Linked DNA regions of Homo sapiens. The protein of the gene in region 1 interacts with the protein of each later gene in a pairwise test. Each region holds a gene or a part of one and is shown on either strand. Other genes may lie near its edges.

Region 1 (7,024 bases):
ATTATAGCTATGTTGCCATCTCCATAGGCAAGAGTATTCTCATTTTTAAAATGGAGAATGCTTTTGATTTACCAAGGTATTTTAGGAATTGAGAAAAGTGCTCTGTAAATGTCCAAGTGCTATAAAGTATTAGATGAAATTATTCACACTCTGGCCCTCTTATGTGTCTGTCCCCAAGCTGTTTCCAACTTAATGCTATTGATTGCCCAATTTGCACGAACCTTTTACTTCAGGTTGGCTAGTCTTTTCCCTGATGCTTCCAAACCACATGCACTCTTATGATGGCTTACATTTGTTTTACCCGCTTTCTCCCTTTTGACTGCTAAGTCTGCCCGTCAAATCCTTATTTTAAATAAAATCTTTCTTGACCACTCCAGGCAAAAGTAACCTGTCCTTTAGAATTTACAGCACTTATAGTCTGTTACAAAGTACCACTTTCATTCGACACCATCTGGTGCATCAATTCTACTCTCCTGTAGTCTTATATGACTAAATATGTGGATCTTATCTATCCCAAACTAGGCTACAAACTCTCTGAGAAAAGAGTTTGGGGTTATCTTCTTGTTCTCCACAGCACGTAGTACAATGGGCAGCACACAGTGAATTCTTATTAAATATCTGAGGTTTCCTTATAACAATGGTGACTGAAGTTTTGCCCCAATAATTGTAAAGCTAAATAGTATTTCTCACCGGCCTGAACTCTGTGAGATAACTTCCCTGTAGTCATCACACAGAAACAGATTTTTCTCCTTTGTGGATAGTCTGATGTTGAGTAAGAGCTGAGTTCTGCCTGAATGATTTCCCACACTCTTTACATACATAGGTACCACGTCTATTATGGATTCTCTGGTGTTTACTAAGATCTGACCTCTGTCTGAAGGCTTTTCCACACTCATCACATTGGTAGGGCTTCTCCCCAGTGTGGATTCTCTGATGCTGAATGAGGCTGGTGATTCCTCGGAAGGCATTCCCACACTCATCACACTTGTAGGGCCTCTCTCCAGTGTGGATTCTCTGATGTTCCGTGAGGACTGATCTTTGAGTAAACGCCTTCCCACACTTATCACATTTATAGGGTCTTTCTCCAGTGTGAATTCGCTGATGTTCTGTAAGACTTGTCCTTTGAATAAAGGCTTTTTCACATACGTCACATTTGTAGGGTTTTTCCCCAGTGTGAATTCTCTGATGCTGAATAAGGCCACTCTGACTGAAGGATTTCCCACATTCCTTACACTGATAGCATTTTTCTTTGTGGTGGATTTCCTGATGGGAAACAAGGGATGAGTTATAAACAAAGGCTTTTCCACACTCGTTGCACTCATACGGCTTGGCGCCGGTATGAACTCCTTGATGCTGAGTAAGTATGGAACGCCGACTAAAACTTTTATTACACTGAGTGCACTGATAAGGTTTGTCTCTTGTGTGGATCTTGATATGGTGAAAGAGGCCTGCTTTCTGACTAAAGGCTTTGCCACAGTCATTACAGTGATAGTGTTTTTCTCCTGTGTGAAGTCTCTGATGTTGGTTAAGAGCTGACCACCGGCCAAAGGCTTTGCCACATTCATTACACTTATACGGTTTCTCTCCAGTGTGTATTATTTTGTGTCGAATAAGCACAGTTCTCCCACGGAAAGCTTTTCCACATTCTTCGCATTTGTAGGGTCTATCTCCAGTATGGATCCTCTGATGTTCTATGAGGTGTGAGTGCTGACTAAAAGCTTTTCCACAGTCATCACATCCGTAAGATTCTTCTCCTGGACAGATTCTCTGATGTTCAGTATGGTCAGAGTTCTCAGTCAGGCTTACTCCATTTTCATCACAGGTAGGTTGTTTATCTTCTCTGGAGCAAGCAGAGGGCTCTTCTGTTATTTCTTCAGGTTCACGAGTTTCTCCACACCTAGCAGACTTGGACATATCATTTTCAAATTTACTGGATGTCTTCCCATGTGGTTCCATTTCTTCAGAAACTTCTTGCTTTAAATTCCCATACTCATTTCCAGTCTCAACATCTAAAACTAAGAAGGGATCATAAATGTTACCTCTTTCTACCTTTAAAATGTATCCATACATTTTAATATTAAGCAGCTGTTTAGAAATAAAAAATGCAAGAGTCTACCATCTTAGTGATAAAGAGAGCAAAATATATTTGTTTCAATATGGAAAACATATGCATCAAAAAAATATCTGGAAGGACACACGAAAAATTAGTAACAGTTACAACCTATTTCAGAGTAGGAGGAAGAGACTAGGTGGCTGGGAAAATCGAGTAGAATAGAAACTTTTCATTAAATAACTTAAAAAATTTTTGTTTTTGAGCCATGTACATTTTTACCTACTTAAAAAATTAAATGAAAATGAAAAGGATGCAGAGAAAGTAGAAATAAGGTAGCGGATCTTTCACACATTCACCAACTTTTAATATTTTGCAACATTTGTTTTATTATTTTTTCTTTTTCTTTTTTTTTTTTTTGAGACAGTCTTGCTCTGTTGCTCAGGCTGGAGTGCAGTGGGGTGATGTCAGCTCACTGCAACCTCCGCCTCCTAGGTTCAAGCGATTCTCCTGCCTCAGCCTCCTGAGTAGCTGGGATTACAGGCACGCGCCACCATGCCCAGCTAATTTTTGTATTTTTAGTAGACACGGGGTTTCACCATGTTGGTCAGGCTGGTCTCGAACTCCTGACCTCGTGATCCACCCACCTTGGCCTCCCAAAGTGTTGGGATTATAGGCGTGAGCCACCGCACCCAGCCTGTTACTCCTTTTCTTTGTAAGTATACAAATTTTTTTTTTCTTGAACCATCTGAAAGTTAGTTGCAGACATAATGGAGCAAAGGCTTATTTAGTGAAGCAGAAAGGATATAGTGCAAGTGGAAGATAGAGGTATTGTCTGATAGGATAAAGGCTAAAAATAGCAAGGAGGTCAGTATAAAGAGAGATAAATATCAGAAGGACTAAATTAAGTGGTAAAGCCAGAATTTAGAAGAATATGAATATACAAAAAAGTAAGGGTTGAAGAGTGACAAACTAGGCTGTCTGAGAGTCTATATATGAGCCATCAGATTCTGAGACGGCCTTTTTGACTTTAATGATCAGAAACAGTAGCAAGTACAAAAAAGCCCCAATGTCCTATGTTACCCATCTTCCCCTTCCTCCCAAGATGGGTCTTTCTTCTTTACCTTGCTCCTGTTGGGATTCAAGTTCTGGAGATTCATACTTTGGCTGGGCTTTCATGGACTGGAGGGACATACTGGGTTCTCCTTCTTTTCGTAGACGTACCGTCTCCTGCAAGAACATTTCCTGTTCCCCAGTGTGGACTGAGACCTGAGGAAAATGAGATGTAGCTGACAGACTCACTCTGATAACAGAAAACAAAAAGTATACTATTTGTGGCAGTGGCTGAACCCTGAAATGACCTTTTTCCCAGATATAAGCCTGCCATAACCCTACCCATTCTTCAAGGCCAATATAAATGTCGCCTCCTCTGGGGAATCTTCCCTTCTCCACCCAGATGTAATTTCTCCTGTTGTTACCGCTAAAGTATGTTGGTTGTGCCACTGTTACCTCTTTATCTTATGCTTAAAGAAGTGGAGAAAGGAAAGGGAGAAAGACAAAACAAAGGAGAGAAGAAAAAGGTGAAAAGAGGCAGAAAGGAGGAAATAAGATAGAACTTAGGGTAAAATAAAACATTAAGAGAGAAAGAGGAAAAGGAAAGGGGATATGTAAAGGTAAATAATGTAGAGAAATGATAAAAAAAAAAAAAAAAAGGCACCCTTGGGATGCCATGGTGGGAGGATTGCTTGAGGCCAGGAGTTTGAGACCAGCCTAGGCAATATAGCAAGACCCCATCTCTCCAAAAAAATTAAAAATGATCTGGGCATGGTGGTGCACATCTGTAGTCCTAACTACTCAGGGGACTAAGGCAGGAGGACTGCTTGAGCCCAGTTCAAGGTTATAGTGAACTATGATTACACTACTGAACTCCAGCCTGGGTGACAGAGACACTGTAGCTCCAAAAAAAAAAAAAAAAAAGGTTGAAGGGAACAAATGAGGAGAAAGAAAGGGAAAAGAAGGGAAGGAGAGAAATCTCTTCCATATTCATTCCCTAAGCTGTTCCCAATAGTCTCTGCTCTTCTGAGGTGCCCGTCCCACTTCTCTCTGGGAAGATTATCTTATTTTCTATTTATCCAAGATCACAATCATCTCAAAAATCATCTACTCTTCATTTTATCTATCTCCACCCTCATACTCCTCTCCATTTCTTCTATCTTAGGATGATGTCTTCTCTTTTTCAAGGCTTACGTCTCTACTTTTGCCTTCAATCCCATCACTTTTGGCTTCTCTCTGACCCTTGCTCCCTCAGTTAACTCATTTATTCAATTTCAGCCACTGGGTGGCTCCCATTCTTCCATGGGCTTATTTCCTCTTGCATTTAAAAATAACAGGTTTCTTCAGCAAGGTATTGTAAAAAGCAGGGATTTGGAATCACATGGATTACTTACTCTCTCTCTTAGTCTAGTAGCTCTGTGACCTTGGGCTAGTTACTTACTCTCTCTGAGATTATAAATAACATTTGTATAAACCACCTTGCACAGGGATTGGCATACAACAGGTTCTCAAATTACTCCCCCATTCTCTTCAAAGGTTAAATTTTATAACTAAGAAATCACCATATACTGCCTCTATTTCCCTGATACATTTTCATTTTGTAGCCTCAGTCTTCAGAATAAAAGCGAGAGTCAGCAAAATGCTATCTCAGATGTATAGAAAACGGTGTTTTGATATCTCATATTTTGAAAAAAGAAAGCCGGGGGAAAAGGCCAGTACTGCGAGCTGTGCCTTCTATTCTGGGATCTCTGGTCAGGCCTCAGAAATCAAGCTGTAAACTCCATTATATGCCCCTGCAGTGCTTTCAGAGAAAGAACTGGTTGGCAATACAAATTCAGCACATTTAAAACCAAATTACTTTTGTCTGCATCTAAGAATCCCATTCTTTGTACCTCCCTAGCTACTCTGTTTCTACTGCTCATTACTCCCTTCATGATCTCATCCTATCTCGTGGCTTTAAATACTATGCGTATTCTGAAAAGCCCCAATTCTGTAGTTCTAGCACAGACCCTTCCACTGAATTCCAGTTTATTATATCTAGTTGTTTGCTCAACTTTTCTGCTTGGATTCTAATAGGAATCTCAAAATTAACATGTCCAAACCCTGTTTTTTTTGTTTTTTTGAGGCAGAGTCTCACTCTGTCGTCCAGGCTGGAGTGCAGTGGCAAGATCTTGGTTCACTGCAACTTCCGACTCCTGGGTTCAAGCGATTCTCCTGCCTCAGCCTCCTGAGTAGCTGGGATTATAGGTGCCTGCCACCACACCCAGCTAATTTTTGTATTTTTAGTAGAGACAGGCTTTCATCATGTTGGCCAGGCTGGTCTTGAACTCCTGACCTCAGGTGATCTGCCCACATTGGCCTCCCAAAGTGCTAGGATTGCAGGCTTGAGCCACCGTGCCTGGCCCAAACCCTAAGTTTTGATTCCTGTCTTTCCACCCCAAACCCACTTCTCTCCCAGTCTTTACCATCTCTATGAATGACAAATCCACTCTATCTGATGTTCAGACCAAATACTTCGGCATAATCCTTAACTTACTTTCTCTCATATTCCACATTCTATATAAAAACAAACCCTGTCAAGCTCTAGCTCCAAAATATATCCAGAATCCAATCACATTTTACCACTCCCACTGCTACTATTCTAGTCCAAGTCACCAATATCTCTTGCCTGGATTATTGCTTATTATTATTGCTCCTAAAATGGTTTCGTTGCCTCTACCTTTTACTCCTATGGCTACCCCAGCCCCATTGTGGAACTTTCTCACAGTAGCCAGAGTGACTATTTTAAAATTCAAGTCAGATTATATCTCGCTTCTGTTCAAAATTCTCCAATGACTTTCCATCTCAGAATACAATTCGAAATTCTTATAATGGCCTACAAGTTCTGACATAATATAATCTTATAAGCATTTTATTTCATCTCCTCCTTGACAACCACATCTCCACCATGATAAGTACATTCTCACTTTAAGACCCTCTGCCTGAATGCTGTTATCCCTGATAGCTTATGGCTTGCTCTTTTCATTCAGATTTCTCCTGTAAATGTCACCTATCTGAAAAACCTTCTCTGACAAGTCTACAGAAAACAGCACAATCCCCACTTATTTCACTATTCCTTTTCTCTGCTTTTATTGTTGTTGTTGTTTGAACAGAATTTATTACCACCTACATCTTGTAGGTGTTTGTTGATTTTTTTTTTTTTTTTTGGAGATAGGGTCTCACTGTGTCGCCCAGGCTGGAGTGCAGTGGTATGATCGTGGTTCACTGCAGCCTCGATCTCCTGGGCTCAAGCAATCCTCCCACTTTAGCCTCTCAAGTAGCTAGGACTACACACACCTGCCTGGCTAATTTTTGTATTTTTTATAGAGATGGGGGTCTCACTATGTTGCCCAGGCTGGTTTGTTGATTTTTAATTTACTATCTGTCTCAGTGGACCAGAACCTACATGAGAGCAGCAACCCCTGTGTTTTGTTCGCTGTTGCATTCACAGTGCCTAAAACAGTACCTAGTCCAAACAGACATTCGGTAAATATGTGCTTAATTGTTTCCTGCAGTCTTTAACTTTGTTAGGAGTGTCTCCATTATACTAGTCTTTCAAGCTTAAAATCCCTAGTGTTTAGCTTAGAATACATTGCTCTGTAAAGAGTTCTCCATTGGTTCTTCCTTCTTTATTTAATAGAGCTAATCTGTCATCACTTCCAAACAGTTCTTACCTAAGACATGCCTCATCCTTGGTAATCACACTTTCACGATCCTATTTCTTTTTTCTGTTTGTTTGTTTGTTTTGTTTTTTAAACGGAGTCTCACTCTGTTGCCCAGGCTGGGGTACAGTGGCACAATCTCGGCTCACTGCAACCTCTGCCTCCTAGGTTCAAGTGATTCTCCTGCTTCAGCCTACCAAGTACCTGGGATTACAGGCAT
Region 2 (7,781 bases), on another chromosome or scaffold:
GTCCCAATAGTAAGCCAGAGGGGATTCCTGATTTCAACTCCAGTGCCAGTCAGTATAGCTTCATTTTTATATATAGTCAAGGCTCTGGTATAGTATTTTACCTAAAAAGCCTCTATTACTTACGACCACTGCTAAAAAGGATGCCAAAAAATATAAAGGGCAGCCCCTACCTTCAAGTCACTAAAATTTAATTGGGAAAACAAATATAAACTCATAAAAAATGAATCAGCAAAAATAATAATTATCAACACAAGTATAAACAGCAAAGGCAAAAATAAAAGAATCTGAGAAGACCAATTCTGAACTCATAAGAAAGATGATTACTATGGGCTGAGCAATGTGAAAAAAAGAAAAGAAACTTTGAATAGGAAAATAGCATGCCATCTGCCAGTGTCTCAGTGAGGACAGCCTACTTTTTGCTGTCCTTGTGAATAAACCCTGGCCTGATACCTACATGGAACTCAGAATCCACTTGTACCTTCTTAACTTGGATCATATCCTATACTGGCAATTACTTGGCAATTGTTCTCTTGTTCCTCCCTCTTTGGCCCATGGATCCTATTGATAATTAATTACCTCGAACAGGTCATTAAATGGTTGTGGCTAATTCCTAAAGCTGAGGACAATAATACAGATAGTCACTTGTGATAACCAGCTATTGTGACTAGCTTCCTTCCCACAGGGCTACCTAGAAAACACAACTGAGCAAATATAAGTATCTCCTTTCTTGCTGAGCCCGAATGTGGCCATAGAATTCTTCTTGATTAGTACCAACTGAATGGAGTTGGAGCTTAAGACAAAACTGTGATCTGTATTTAGCTTCTCACATCTGGCTGGATCCCCTTTCCTAACTGAACTATCCCTCTGGCCTTGACCAGTGTCTATCTAAGCTTATGATATACCACTGGCCACCCTTTTTTGTGTTTAGCTGGAACACAGCTTTCAATCACGGATGTGCTGGGAGACAGGATGACAAAAATGGTTTTAAGGAAAGGGGGAGTAGATGATGAAGGACTAAAAAGGGCCAAGCACCTGGCATACTTACAAAAGCATGGCCCCATCATAGACCTAGTGATCACAATTTCTGAGCTGGGGTCTAGGAATCTGCATTTTAAGTACTTGCAGTGTATTTTAAAAAAATTATTATAGAACATTTTAAATTATAAAATAGTAAAGAGAATGTATTCATCATTAATCTATAACCAATCTTGTTTCATCTATATCCTTACCCATTCTTCCTACTCCTCACCCCAGTGGATTATTCTGAAGCATAACGTTTCATCTGTAAATATTTTAGTACATATCTCTGAAAGGTAAGGACTTGAAGAAAATGTTGCCATAAACCAATACTTAAAAAAAATTCCTTGTTTTCATCAAATCTCCAGTTAATGTTCAAATCTCTCCAGTTGTCCCAAATTTAAAAATATTTAAGTCACGATCCAAATAAGATCTCACACATTGTCTTTGGTTGGTACGTCTCTTTACTCTTAAGGTCCAGACACCCGGATAGATAAGTCGAGGCCTCCTGAGTATAGAGCAGCCAGTGATTGACAGTCAGACTAGAAGATCCCTTGGCTCTGAGCAGTAGCACCATTTCTGACTGCTTCAGAGTAGAAGACTCTGAGCTCTGCTAAACCAAAGCAAATTTTTAAAAAGTTGGTGAGATCTTTAACAACTGGGTGAGAGAACTACAAATGCGTTGTTGAAAAAAGGGCACAAAAGTGTTCTAGAAATGGCATAGGACCACCAAAGGCTGTGGATGGTTTGCTGACTATGTCTTGGTCGTGGAGTTGAGAGCAATCTTTAAAGCATTAATTTGGGCTATTGATCACATCTTGCTCCCTTTATGTAAGCAGTGTGTGGTGTATGTGGAATGTGGAAATAGCCAGCACAGTGCCTGGCTCATGACAACCAAGATTCTTCCAAAGACTATACTGACAATTTCCTTGATACACTAGAACCTCAAACAGATGCAAATCTTCAAAAGATAAAGGCCTTTGCAAATGACCGACTTTCCTTCTATTTACTTAATCATAATAACTGTGATAGTTTCATTTATTAATGGCTTACTAAGGACCAGGCCATGTGTCTAGCAACTGATAGTTATTTGTTGAATGCATGAACAAGAATATTGAATGCTTTACATTTAATCCTCAGAGCATCTGCCACTATTTTGCCATGAAGTTTATTACTATCTCTGACAAAACAGTAGTAAGAACTAGGACTTATTCTTACTGTGAATTCTTAATCTGTTCTAAGTAACTCTGTATATTATTATCTCGTTCATCAGCACAACAGCTGTGTAAGTTAAGTACTATTATCCCCATTTTATGCAGGCCCAGAGTTTCAGTAACTTGGATAAGAACACAGATTATAACTGATGGTACTTGACTGAAACTTGAGCAGCCTAACTGGTTAACAGTAGTCCTGGAAGGGGAAGAGGCCAGTATCAACACTCCCATGTATAAGTTCTTGGCAAGAATAAGTTCAAAAAGGCAGGTTTAGAGGTCATGTCTAGCACAGACCATCATCAACATTGCCCCTCTCTTTCTCAAGAGTAAGGACAATGCTGCTGCTGAGGCAGGAATCAAGTTACATAAAGAGACCTCAGAAATCAATGGGATGGTTTTTTGGGTACATTGACTGGTTTAGCGCCTCTGTTCATTCGTCAAACATTTATTAAGCACCTGCTACGTGCAAAACACTGTTAACAGTGCACTACTGTGCACGCTCATTCTCAGAACAACAATCCTGCGATTCCTGGAGAGGGATGGTAGAAGAGGAGTGCTGCCTTGTTAACGAGGTTCTCCCAACTTCTTTTTTTCCTCGGGAATTGTTCTCTTTAATGTGGCACCAGCGGCAACCTTCATTCTTAGGTCGCACAAATCTGAGAAGGAAGAGAAAAACATTGCACGCAGGGCGAGACTTATATCTGGGAAGATGCGTCAGGAACTTGGGAGCACTTGGGATTCAGTCCCCTAAGGTGGTTCATGTACAGGCTGGTTTTCTAAGTGGAGAACAGATAATAGAATTTGCAGAGCCAGGAGCTCTGACTCCTGTGGCTGGGCTGACCTTAGGCTCCAGCCCGCAACCCCAGTAGGTTTCTGTGCAAAAATCTTTTGAGATGAATGCATACTTTGTCTTCTAACAATGCATTCGTGACAGCTGTCTATCCAATCGGTCCGCCTCCGTTCAGAGCAGTTCGTGCCACAGAAGCATCTCCTGCGCTATAGTTATGCAACCTCACTCGCAGCGGGAGTTATTTCCTCCGTTCTGGCTGCGCCAGATTCATGTAACACGCCTACCCTGGGCTTCAATGGAAGTCGTTCTCCATTAACAATCACTCCAGCTTTCCGAGATGAATGCCCTGATAGCATACCCCTTGCGCAGTAAGAATCCAGGCAGCGAGGCGAGGTGTTAAAACACACATACATTCTCATATTCTCTCTCTCTCTCTCTCACACACACACACACACACACACACACACACATACACTTCGTGCATGCAGCTAGGGGACTGCAGCAGTGCAACCAGGGGGACAGCAGGAGGAGCTCTCTTTGCAGTCCCTGCTTCTAACCCCCACTAACTAAAGATGAACTCATGCCAGTTCCATTCTTTGCTCTGCAAAGAAAACACACACACACACACACACACACACACACACACACACACACACACGGCAGAAGAGAGTAGCCTCCAGATTTCCCCTCTGAGCACACTGTCTTTCTAGCCTCTTCGTTCAAGCAACCCGGATATTCCAAGCAGAGTAACGGGGAGTAACGCGCCACAACAATGCAACCTCCCTAGCAGCTCCCCTCGCAGCTCCCACCCCCGCCCCCTTTCGCGGCGTGCCAAGAGTTTGGAGCGCGCGCACGCACACCGAGCACGGTGCAGGGAGGATATCCCTCCGCCTCCCTCCCCCTTTCTCCGCTAAGTGGCTCGACAACGATTTGGGAAATGAAGGGAGGAGGGAACTACTTTCCTGAAACTTGCTATGCTGCACATGACTTCGAGTTGCAGTGATTCGCCCGGAGGCCGCGGCTTTTAGTCCTACCCACACACCCTCACAGCCTGGGCACCCCGCTCGGCAGCCCCACCCCGCGCCCGCTCTGGCCTCCGGGGAAAGCGGGCGGCCGGGAGAAGTCGCGAGGGACTACTTCGCCTCCTTCTCTCGCGGGCGCCCCCGGTTCGGGCAGCGGCTGCGGCGGCGGAAGGAGCGGGCGGCGTGAGCGCTTCCGCCGCCCCCCTCGCGGCTCCCCTCTCTCGGGCGTGAGGAGCTGGCCCGCTGAGCTGCTGGTGGGCACTGGCTGGCGGGGAACCTGCAGCCGCTCTTGTCCTCTCCCGCCGCTTCTCGGGATCCTGCCCCCCGGACCCGGGCCCGCCCGCTCTTCTCCGGCCGGGTGGGAACGATCGGTTTGCCTGCCCCTCGCCTCACACGCTCCCCGCCGCCCCCTCCACCCCCCTGAGGAGGAGTCCCGGCTGGAGCGTGTCTGGAGGAATCCGCCGCCGCGGGGCCCCTAGCCCTGCTCTGCCGGCGCCTGAGGACCGACCCAGACGCCGCCGGGGGTTGAGGGGCAGCCGGCGGCGAGGCGGGAGATGGTGGGGTGGGCTCCGGCAGGACCGCGCCGCCGCTGCCCGGAGCCTGGGCTCGGCACCCCCCCGCCGGCCCCCACCGAGCGGAGCTCTGCTTCCTCCTCGCCGCATCCCTGAGGGAAGCGCCGCCTCTGCTCCCGGGTTCTCCGCCCGCCGACTCCTTCCTGGCCGGACCCCGCTGCGCTCCACCCCAGTGGCTGGAGGAGCAGCTCTCCAGTCAGCCTTTGCAGCCCCTCTCTTTTTCCCTTTCCACCGGGCCTCCTCGGATCCCTTGGCTGGGCACTGAGGCGGGGGAAGAGGCTGGGGTCGCCACGGCGGAGGTTGCTGCCGCCACCCCCCTGCGGGGGTGGCCGGGGTTCCCGGCTGGGGGGGTACCGTTCTGGGTGAGGCATCCACCATGGTGAGGCCCCTGTGCCGCTGCCCCCGCGCCCCCCCGGCCGCCGCTGCCTCCTGCCCCTCGGTGCTGCTGTTGCTCCCCCGCCTGCTGTTGCTCCTCCATCTCCAGATCGGATCACGGTGAGGGAAAGATGAGCGAGGAGACGGCGACTTCTGACAACGAGTAAGCGCCTCATTGATCTCGATTGCTAATCCCCCTCCCCCTATCCGCCCTCGGCTCTCCCCCAGACCCATCCGAAACTTGGGTGCCGGAAAGCTTGCGACCCTGGAGAGTTCGGTGCATCTTCTGGAGATAGCTGATTTCTTTAGCCATTTTTAGTGGCAGCACCCCTCCCCATCCTCCCACATTTAGCTGCTTTCTTTTGGGGTAGGGGATTAAGTGTTGGGAGAGGATGGCAATTGTACGTCTATGAGAGGGAATAATGTGGATGGATGGAAGTGGAGTAGAAACTACCCCTTTGCCTGTGAGACCCCTGTCCCGTCCTTTTTCACTCACATACCAGTCACCATACCTTCAGTATCCATCCTACTTCCTTTATAGCTGTTTCACTTGGAAACTAATGTGTGGGAGCACCTCCTGCAGCAAACTGCTCTTGAATCTTAATTCGATGAGTCAGTGACTCTTAAATACCGATTAAGCCTTCACCCTCTCCCCCCTCCCCCTTTTAAACTTATGACCTGTAAGATTCTTGTAAAAAATAGGGTTAGGGAAACATTTTTAGAATTTAATAGGATTAAGGACACCTGGAGTGTGGGCGATGTTGAGCTAGAGTTTACCTTTGTGAATATTGGACGTGTCTTCAGGAACGGAGAAGAATTTTGAATGCTAATTTTTACCTTTCAGCTATGTGAAAACACATGATTTACGTTGATGTAACCGAATTTACATTGCTGAATATGTTGGTGATTTCATTAACTTTTAGAGCATTCCGGTTTAAGTTTTAGCTTATTTGGGCTTTCTCCTTGCTTTCCAAACGAAATACTTCGTCTTTTAAATGTTTTGCTTTAACGTGACAGCTGCGTGGAGAAATAATGGTTGGCAACACTTTTCTATTGAGAAGGGATTTAATTCCAAGCAGAATATTAGCATCCGTTTTCTTGTAATTAAGTTCAACTTTTGTTTATCTTCGGAGGGTTGGAAAGAGTTAAGTGAGTTAGGACTTAGTCATTTGGATGCATTCCTTTAAATACAGTGCATTACTAAAGTCAGACCTTTTTGAAATAACTTTTTAAAGTCTGTACCGAGTCCTGTTTAACGTAAAATAGCTAGAGAAAGGCCAAACAACATTTCCTCCTCCCTTACTCCCTCCCCACCCCAAAACACACGCTTCTGCTGAGCGGGTGTAGAAGGAGGTACATTGCTGCAGTGTCAGTGCAGTGTAGAAGCAGAAGTGGCAGCCATGTTCTGTCTCTTTTTGTGAATCGCCCTCATTTGCATAGCACACTCTTCATTCATAAAAAAAATAATTAAACATCCATCACCTTGGACATCTTGAAAGGATTTCCCAAGAAAAAAAATTCGCGGCTTATTTGTCTGTGTGTAGATTTTTGAGTTCAGAAGGTAAGAAGAATGTGAAATTTTAGGTTAAATTTAAAAACATACGCACACACAAACAACTACCCCTGTTCTGAGAATGTTGACACAGTTATGTGGGAAATATCAGTTCGGGGAGGTGCTGGGATCACGTGATCGCCTCCATTCATAAAATACCTGGCTGTCCATTCAGAGTGCAGTACAGTCTCTCCCTGCCTTCTGCAGATTAGACCTACTTTGAGGGAGATCAAGAAGTCTATCTCAGATAATGGTTATTTAGGAGAAGAACTGCTAAAAATGCTGAACCGAATGACGGTAACTTTTATTGGTATCTTTCAAAAAGTTTGGATTAAAAATGTTAAGTTTTCTTTTAGAGATGGGAAAAGACTTCTTACCAGTTTAATTTTTTTCTTAAAGCAGTGAATATCTCCTTGTTTCCTTCTGGTTGCAGCTAATAAAAAAAGCAGATGATGGAATGTGAATTAACACAAGTAAAATATATTTTTTCTAAATGGCCATTTTTTTAAATACTTGCCATAAATAAATTGAGACAACAGGTTTTTTTGTATAGTGATAGTGCGTTCCACTGCTATTACAGTAAATTGAGAAAATACTCCCAGTGATTTAATCCCCAAGATGTTGATATTTGAAACACCGATGGCAATCTTCAGTGAGAGGATTGCTTTAAATATTTTTTTTTCATCTAAATGTACTTAGTATGGGACAACTTGGAAATTATCTCACTCACCCAGACTTTTAAAATCGTTTTTTCACAAATTTATCCTGCTTTATTAATAAATTATTCCCTAGGAGCTTTGTAATACTTTTTAAGTTTGGGCAGGGCGATAATAATATTTAGCATAATATTTTGGTAAACTCTTCATGGGAACAAAATCTTGGGGGTTTTACTTTAAAAAACTCTATTATATTAGAAAATAATGTGTTCATCTGATAATCAGTTTTACTAGAGCCAGCATTGTTTGCTTGTGCATTAGATAAACCACAGAGTGAACTTATTTGGAATGTAGCTTTTAATATAGTAATTTATGTCTCATCTTTAATAGGTGAACCGTTTTGAAATGGAAATTTATTATTTATAGTCATTATGAAGAAAGATACGTATCATGGCAGAAGCCATTAAGGCCTTAGCACAGTTTAAAACTGCCCTGTAACATGGATTTTATTTGGGCCTTACATTTTTTTCCCTTTTCTCTTTTTTAAAGCCATTGCTCATAGGGATTTAATTACAGTAGGGAC
Region 3 (7,024 bases), on another chromosome or scaffold:
GTACAAAAATACAGTACTCTACAGAAGTTCAGGGCTGGCAGAAGACCTAGACCGAGGTATTCAGCAGGCACCAATACTCACCTTCGTCTCTGGAATAGTCTTCCCCAGAATGTGGTTCAAACAAATAATCTCCCGTTGCCAGCTCAAATGCCTAGGATACAACAGACGACATGCTAAGCACTTCAGAGACTGGCCCCCAAGTCAACAGCTTTTTCTCCTTATAGAAGAGACCGCCACTTTATGAAGATCTGAATCAAACAAAATAGCCTCCTGAAAGTGCTCAATACTAATTTTTTTCTTTCTTCCACATTCAAAGAAGTTTCAGAAGTATTTTTACATTTCTAAGGAAAGATATAAGAGCTATGTATTCTCTTCATTTTGCAGGAAGCAAAACCAAAACGTCAGTGAGTCAGCCGCACCTGCATGCAGGCCTGGCCAGAGCGCGGTATGCACTCTATAAATGGTAGAACGAGAGTTCAACCCAGGACTCAACAAGGCCCGTCTGACTCCAGCACCTGCCTCAACCACTATAATAGCCTTGGCCTCTGTATAGCAGACACTGCTGCGTCTTTTAGGCGAAGACCTTCATGTTTTAGTAACCAAGGACTATTTTCAGTATCTCATCAACCATTTTCATCATCATTTCATTCATTTCTGATTCAACCAAAGGAAAACCTGGAAACAAAAAAGACCCTCTTTGTCCCCAGGGCCAGAGGAAGCAGATGGTCTTGCAGACCCTTTTGTGGATGTCACGGAGCACTGGCTTCCTGGGTGGCCACTGGCTGTCCCTCAGCATGCCAGCATGTAGGGAACACATTTCCCTTGCTCACAAAAAAACCCTCAAAAACATGAGTTTAAGCTAGTAACAATATACAAAAATGGCAACTGCTACTGCTCTGCTGATCAAAGAGAATGTTTTAAAAGAGAAAAAAAGAATAAGCTAAATCCCATTTCTGGTTTTTCTCATAGCTGCTTCTATTCTGAACGGATCTTGCTGTCCCAAAAGGTGCTCAGAGGCCCAATCACTGATGCCTGTGGATCTGTGACTGCCCTCCCCATTCCCGCCCCAAGGAGCCAATACTGGGGAAACTTCACTGCATCAACCTACCTTCTTTTTCTTTCAATGACCACACAGTGCTGGAAAGGCACCTTTAAGGGAAGGCTCACCTGCCTGGGTGAGGGGCCACCTCTCCTGGCACTGTCTTTAACAAACCAAGAGTGAGTGCAGTCAGCCCAGGACCACATCTTTTCACCTTTTTTAAAAAAAAAGACTGCCTGTCAATCACTTGAAGGAAGGAAGGATGGTGACAAGATGGCTTCCAGCTGACCGAGCGATAAGCATTAATTTATGAACTCAGGATCCCTGCCCTGAACCTGGCATAGGTCTGAGCAAGACACGGACATGTCACATCTCAGCATGGTGAGCTGGTGGTCCCAGCACTGTGGATGCACGAAGGCACCAGCAGAAAACCCAGGAAAGCCCTTATGTAGGGCCTCTCCTTTCCACCCAATAAACAAAGAAGACAGTTGGGCCAATCCCAGATGAGGGCAGGAAAACCTCATAACTGGCCCCAAATCCAAGTGGAACAACTAGATTACACACTCAATGGCCAGGAGAGTCCTTCTAGCCTGGGAAACAATCAATTCAGTATCTTACAAGCTAAGAGAAAAATCTGAAAACTCTAATGGGACAACGAGGACTTGAAAAGCCTGGATCAAGTTCCAAGCTGCTTTTCAACCCCTGCCTTGAGCCCTATGCTAACTAACTCTTTTAATTAATTTTCAAAATGACTTCAATCTGGTTGCATATATTTCTTTTTCTTTCATATTTTTTAGAGAAGGGACCTCGCTATGTTGTCCAGGCTGGACTCAACCTCTTGGGCTCCAGTGATCCTCTCTCAGCCTCCAGAGAAGCTGGGACTACAGGCGCACTACACTGCACCCAGCTTTGTACATATTTCTTACTGCCAAAATATGTCAGGTATGTATTCTTTGAAAAAAATCATCATTTTGATTAGCACCCACATATTCCCAAGAAAACATGTATAGAAGCCAATCAATGAAATAATTTTTTTTTGAGACGGAGTCTCGCTCTGTCACCCAGGCTGGAGTGCAGTGGCACAATCAATCTCAGCTCACTGCAAGCTCACACCATTCTCCTTGCCTCAGCCTCCTGAGTAGCTGGGACTACAGGCGCCCGCCACCACGCCCGGCTAATTTTTTGTAGAGACGGGATTTCACCATGTTAGCCTGACCTCGTGACCCGCCTGCCTCGGCCTCCCAAAGTGCTGGGATTACAGGCGTGAGCCACCAAGCCCGGCCAAATAATTTTCTTTTTTTTTAAAGGAACAAGGAAGATGAAGGCTGTAATGCTACCCATTTTTGATTCTTTGGAGAGTGGCAAGATTCTCTTAACAATACAACATGTACAACAGGGCAAATGCACATTACAATGAAAAAAACTCTGCCTTCAACTCAGTTACTCCCAGTATAACCTTCTATTGCCCAGGCTGAGTGCAGCGGCACAATTTTGGCTCACTACAACCTCTGCCTCCTGGGTTCAAGCGATTCTCCTGCCTCAGCCACCTGAGTAGCTAGGACTATAGGCACGTGCCACCATGCCCAGCTAATTTTTGTATTTTCAGTAGAGATGGGGTTTTGCCATGTTGGCCAGGCTGGTCTCAAACTCCTGGCCTCAAGTGATCTGCCTGCCTTGGCCTCCCAAAGTGCTGGGATTACAGGTGTGCATCACCTCGCTGGGCCTAAGTATAATCTTTATTATTATTTTTAATACCTGGGAACTCCGGATTCTTCTCTACTTGGCTCAATCCCCTCAAAGGGCTCTTCCCTGGACCTACTTGTTTCCAGATTCTTGGGAGACCAACTACCTCTCTCCTAAAACATTCTCCTATGCTGAAGTATCCCGATTCTGAACAAATAAGATCACGTATTTGTTCTGTAATGTGACCAGTGCCGAAGAAGTCTGGTGAAGTTTGTTGGAATGGCTTTTCTTGTTTCTATGGCACTGACCAGGACTCACCATGGAGTTCATAAAAAGTCCTATCAGAGACTCTAATACATAAATGCAGAGAAACCAATGCTTCAGCCACAAAGAAGTTTCAGATTATATGTACTTACACTGGAAGGTGTAAAGCTCAAAAAAAAAGTAAAACTCAAGAAAAGTAAAACAGATCCAAACCCAACATACCCTTGCTGTGGTCCCTCATTCTGTTGTGCTTCTCCAGCTGCAGAGCCTAAAGCTGTCCTCCCTGACAATAGCCAATGGCTACCACCCGTCAGCTCTCATTCCCAACAGAGTCTCTGTGAGATTTGATGCTATTTATAAATCTCAAAGACAGCCGGGCACAGTGTCACATCCCTGTAATCCCAGCACTATGGGAGACCAGGGCGGGTGGATCACTTGAGCTCAGGAGATCAAGACCAGCCTAGACAACGTGACAAACTCCATCTCTACAAAAAATACAAAAATTAGCCAGGCGTGGTGGCATGTGCCTGTAGTCCCAGCTACACCAGAGGCTGAGGTGGGAGGATCACTTGAGCTTGGGAAGTGGAGTCTGCAGTGAACTATAGTCCTGCCACTGCACTTCAGCTTGGGGAACAGAGCAAGACCTTGTCTCCAAACAAACAAACAAAACCCTCAAAGACTATATATAGGCTTTACCACCAAGAACCATCTGTGGCCTTATGACAGCTTGGTATTATGAGGTCAAATTTAATATATTAAATGTCCTATTTTTACACTACAACAGAACGATGAGGTAAGAAAAACTGCCTCATTGCTCCTAGGTTCTCTAGGAGGAACAAAAGAAACCTCTAAAGCCATGACTTTTGGGGGGTGGGGCAAGCAGTGAATGAGGGCCTGCCCCTTTCCAAAAAAAAAAAAACCTCCCTTATGACAACCAACTGAAAAAGCAAACCTCATAAGCCGTCCTGACAGCACTGAGGGAGCTTATGCTTAATTCTTGGGAAGGGGGCAGGTGAGAAGACAGAAAGGCTTTTCCTTGGGAATCTGTTATTGATATTTATGCCACTGTTCACAGCAATAGCATTTCAAGAAGTAAGCAGGACAGGGAAATTGTATGGAGGGACAAACGTTCATCTAATGGAAGGCAGGTCAGATAACCTGGTATAAAATTGTGCTGAAAGCTCCATTAACCCACTACATCCGTGACTGCGTCCTATTTTTCTGGTTATATCACCAAACTTAATACCCCAAATTAGAAGCACAGCATTTCAGAGTTCAAAGAGTACTTAGCGCCTAATTCGGGGCAGCCCTGCTGCTAGTGGCCATTGTGGTCTAACCTCCCCACATCCTGAAATGGCCCCTGCTCCCCGACTCCCACTCAGTGTCTCCGCAGCTCCCGTTACACTAACTCCCACGTCTCAGTCTGCCTGCTGGGGTCACACAGAGAGGGTCAAATGCCTCTCCACACAGCACTCTCTAAATTCAAAGTGACCATCATTGGCCACCGGTTCTTTTAACCGTTCTTTTCTATACCTAGCTAAGGCAGGGACTTGGTTTTTGATATGGAAGAACTTTAATACCTTTAATAATTTAAACGTTATTGTCTGGTATTATCCTTAAGAGCAACGAGGGAATAGAAAGGCCTGGTGTTTCAGGACCTATCTGGCCATGTGCTGACTCAGATCATGCTGAGTCAAAGCTGAAAGACAGAAAGCACCCTCTTTTTCTCCTATCAGCTGGCACTATCTGCTCAACAATGCTTTTACTTGAGCATTAGAGGAGGTAAAACACAGTAAATTCAAGAAAATTGTTAAATTAACCTCTGAATAACAGAAAATTAATATATTTATTCTGCATTCCTTTTTTCAGTGAGAAGAAAAATGCTAAGCCTTGCACACAATCTTTTCTTTTAAATATTGGAAGAATATGGATAAAAAGCAGTATGGAATAGGAAAAGCATGAAACCCAACAGCAAGCAACCCACCTTTCCCAACACGGAACGCCTAAGTAAATACCACTGAGAAAAAGCTGCTGAATGGGCCAGGAAACAGGGCAGAGGAAGAGAACCAGGAACTGGCTCGCAAATGCAGGGCCCTTTGTGTTCACCAACTCACAGGTTCAGGGTCAATGACCAAACGATGCCAGGCAGGGCCAGGGGAGTTTACAGACAATGCAACTGTGCAGCACAAAACCAGCAGCAAAACAGGCCTGACAGATAGAAGAAGAGGCTTCTGCCGCCCTGTGGAAGCCGTCATCTCAACCACTCTGGGAACAGACTCTGTCAGAGGGAGTGGGCGTTGCTGCCACTGTTTCAGAAGAGGCTAGACATCCTAGAATAAGCCAGAATATCTGCTAGCTCTTGCTTTATAAGGGAAGAGAGATTATGCATTGGCATCTGGGGAAATCCCTTCCAGTCTGGAAAGGTGAGGAACCCTGCATGTCTGGTTGACCAGGCAGAGGCTTACCTGGAGGGGCTCCCACCTGCCCGCCTTAGGCAGTCTTCCCCTGGAGATGCTACCTCATCTTCCTCCACAGTGTGAGTGAAGGGAAAAGCTCCCTATACCCTGCACATTTTCAGGGACCACAAGTGAAGTCACTGTGTCACAACAACTGAGTCTGATTCATGGGGCTGTGGGCTGTGCAGGGCCTTAAGAAGAGACCATGTCTCTCTCACAAGCCCACAACCACACCAAACACCCAGGGCCCGCCTGAGGAGGATCCTTCCACTTCTTAAGATGCCTGCGGCAGCAACCTTCCCCTCACCCAGCCCACGGTGGATGACCCTTACAGTCAGAAAAACTGAGGTCGCATGCCTCAGAGAGACTCAGCCCCATCCAGAGTGTGAAAGGAACGAGCCAATTCCCATGGCAGCAAAGGGCACAGCCGTCCTTACCATACACGCCGTGCTCCAGATGTCCGCAGGGGTGCTGTACCCCGCTCCTATTAAAACCTCTATGGAGCGGTACTGACGCGTCTGGATGTCTTCCGTGAAGTGTTTATGCTGGAAGGGAACAGGCTGCATTACCACGGAGCAACACAGACATTCAAAAAGTGTCTTCGCACACAGAATCAAGACCAAAGGTTTTAGAAAGAAAACTCTACTTACCACCCAACAAGCATTTCCCAGGTCAGCAATTTTTACTCTAATTTTATCTGCATTCCGCGGATCCAGGGGATTCACCAACAAGTCAGCTGCCCGGGTTTTTGCTGGCATGAGCAAACAGCAGGACAGTTAGTGATCGGGATAGGTGGTTTGCATGTGTGAGCACAGTGTTTGCCAGGGTCAGTCTCCTTTCCTCAAGAGTAGTGGAATGATCACTTAGGCCTGGAATACTGTAAATTAAACTTGACAGAACTAAAATTGCTTGTTCTCCACCTCTGGAAAATACTCCAGAAAAGAGCAAACTGGGCTGCCCACAGGACGCCAAGGGCACTGCCTTGACCTTTCTCTTTTTATCCCCAGTTTCTTCGGGTCCAGGTCAGCCCTAGAACAAGCCAGCCTTGCTGTCCCCCTGTCTGCAGCTTTGTGGCGGCTCTTCATGGTGTCAATCCATCCCTTCACGGCCCAGATCGAGCTTGCTGATGCATTATTACAAGGAACATGAAGGTAGAAAGAACACTGCTGTGGGGGCCGATCACTCTCAGTGACACACAGTTCCTTGGACGCCACAAGACATCAGGGTCCCTGGCACCGACACCTCACACCCACATCATCCCCTACAGTTCCCACTGCTTGGGCTGAGCACACACAGATCTCAAGGGGTAGATGACTGTTGATTAACAAACACAGATTAAAGGCAGGGACTAAACTATTCTGGTTTTGTTTTAGACAAGGAAGGTCCCAGACAGAGGTCTCCTGAGATGGCCTGGGCCATAAAGGCAACCTCTGAGGTCAGTCATGAACTTGTCATGTACATGAGCAGTCATTCTAAATTCCAGGATGACTCCAGGGAATCTCAAAGGCAGGTATAGGGCCAGCTTCCCAGAGATTCTGGGGCCAGATCTTCTCAAACAAGTTCAGATCATGCCTGTATCAAG

The links. The genes of interacting proteins can lie anywhere in the genome.
Region 2: the proteins of ZSCAN12 (region 1) and SPRED1 interact in binary tests that used the Homo sapiens proteins (3 or more experiments, as listed by UniProt).
Region 3: the proteins of ZSCAN12 (region 1) and SRPK2 interact in binary tests that used the Homo sapiens proteins (3 or more experiments, as listed by UniProt).

Annotation. Positions count from the first base shown.
Region 1 is NC_000006.12:28,389,728-28,396,751, forward strand, and holds part of ZSCAN12 (zinc finger and SCAN domain-containing protein 12), read right to left. Parts: intron 3,354-7,024; coding exon of another isoform or gene 3,320-3,353; coding exon 3,175-3,319; intron 2,016-3,174; coding exon 727-2,015; 3' UTR 1-726. UniProt on the Homo sapiens protein: May be involved in transcriptional regulation.
Region 2 is NC_000015.10:38,248,065-38,255,845, forward strand, and holds the start of SPRED1 (sprouty-related, EVH1 domain-containing protein 1), read left to right. Parts: upstream 1-4,771; 5' UTR 4,772-5,121; coding exon 5,122-5,153; intron 5,154-6,720; exon of another isoform or gene 6,721-6,839; intron 6,840-7,781. UniProt on the Homo sapiens protein: Tyrosine kinase substrate that inhibits growth-factor-mediated activation of MAP kinase. Negatively regulates hematopoiesis of bone marrow.
Region 3 is NC_000007.14:105,126,912-105,133,935, forward strand, and holds part of SRPK2 (SRSF protein kinase 2), read right to left. Parts: exon of another isoform or gene 6,194-7,024; coding exon 6,093-6,193; exon of another isoform or gene 5,988-6,092; coding exon 5,880-5,987; exon of another isoform or gene 4,856-5,879; intron 1,982-4,855; exon of another isoform or gene 1,875-1,981; intron 152-1,874; coding exon 82-151; intron 1-81. UniProt on the Homo sapiens protein: Serine/arginine-rich protein-specific kinase which specifically phosphorylates its substrates at serine residues located in regions rich in arginine/serine dipeptides, known as RS domains and is involved in the phosphorylation of SR splicing factors and the regulation of splicing.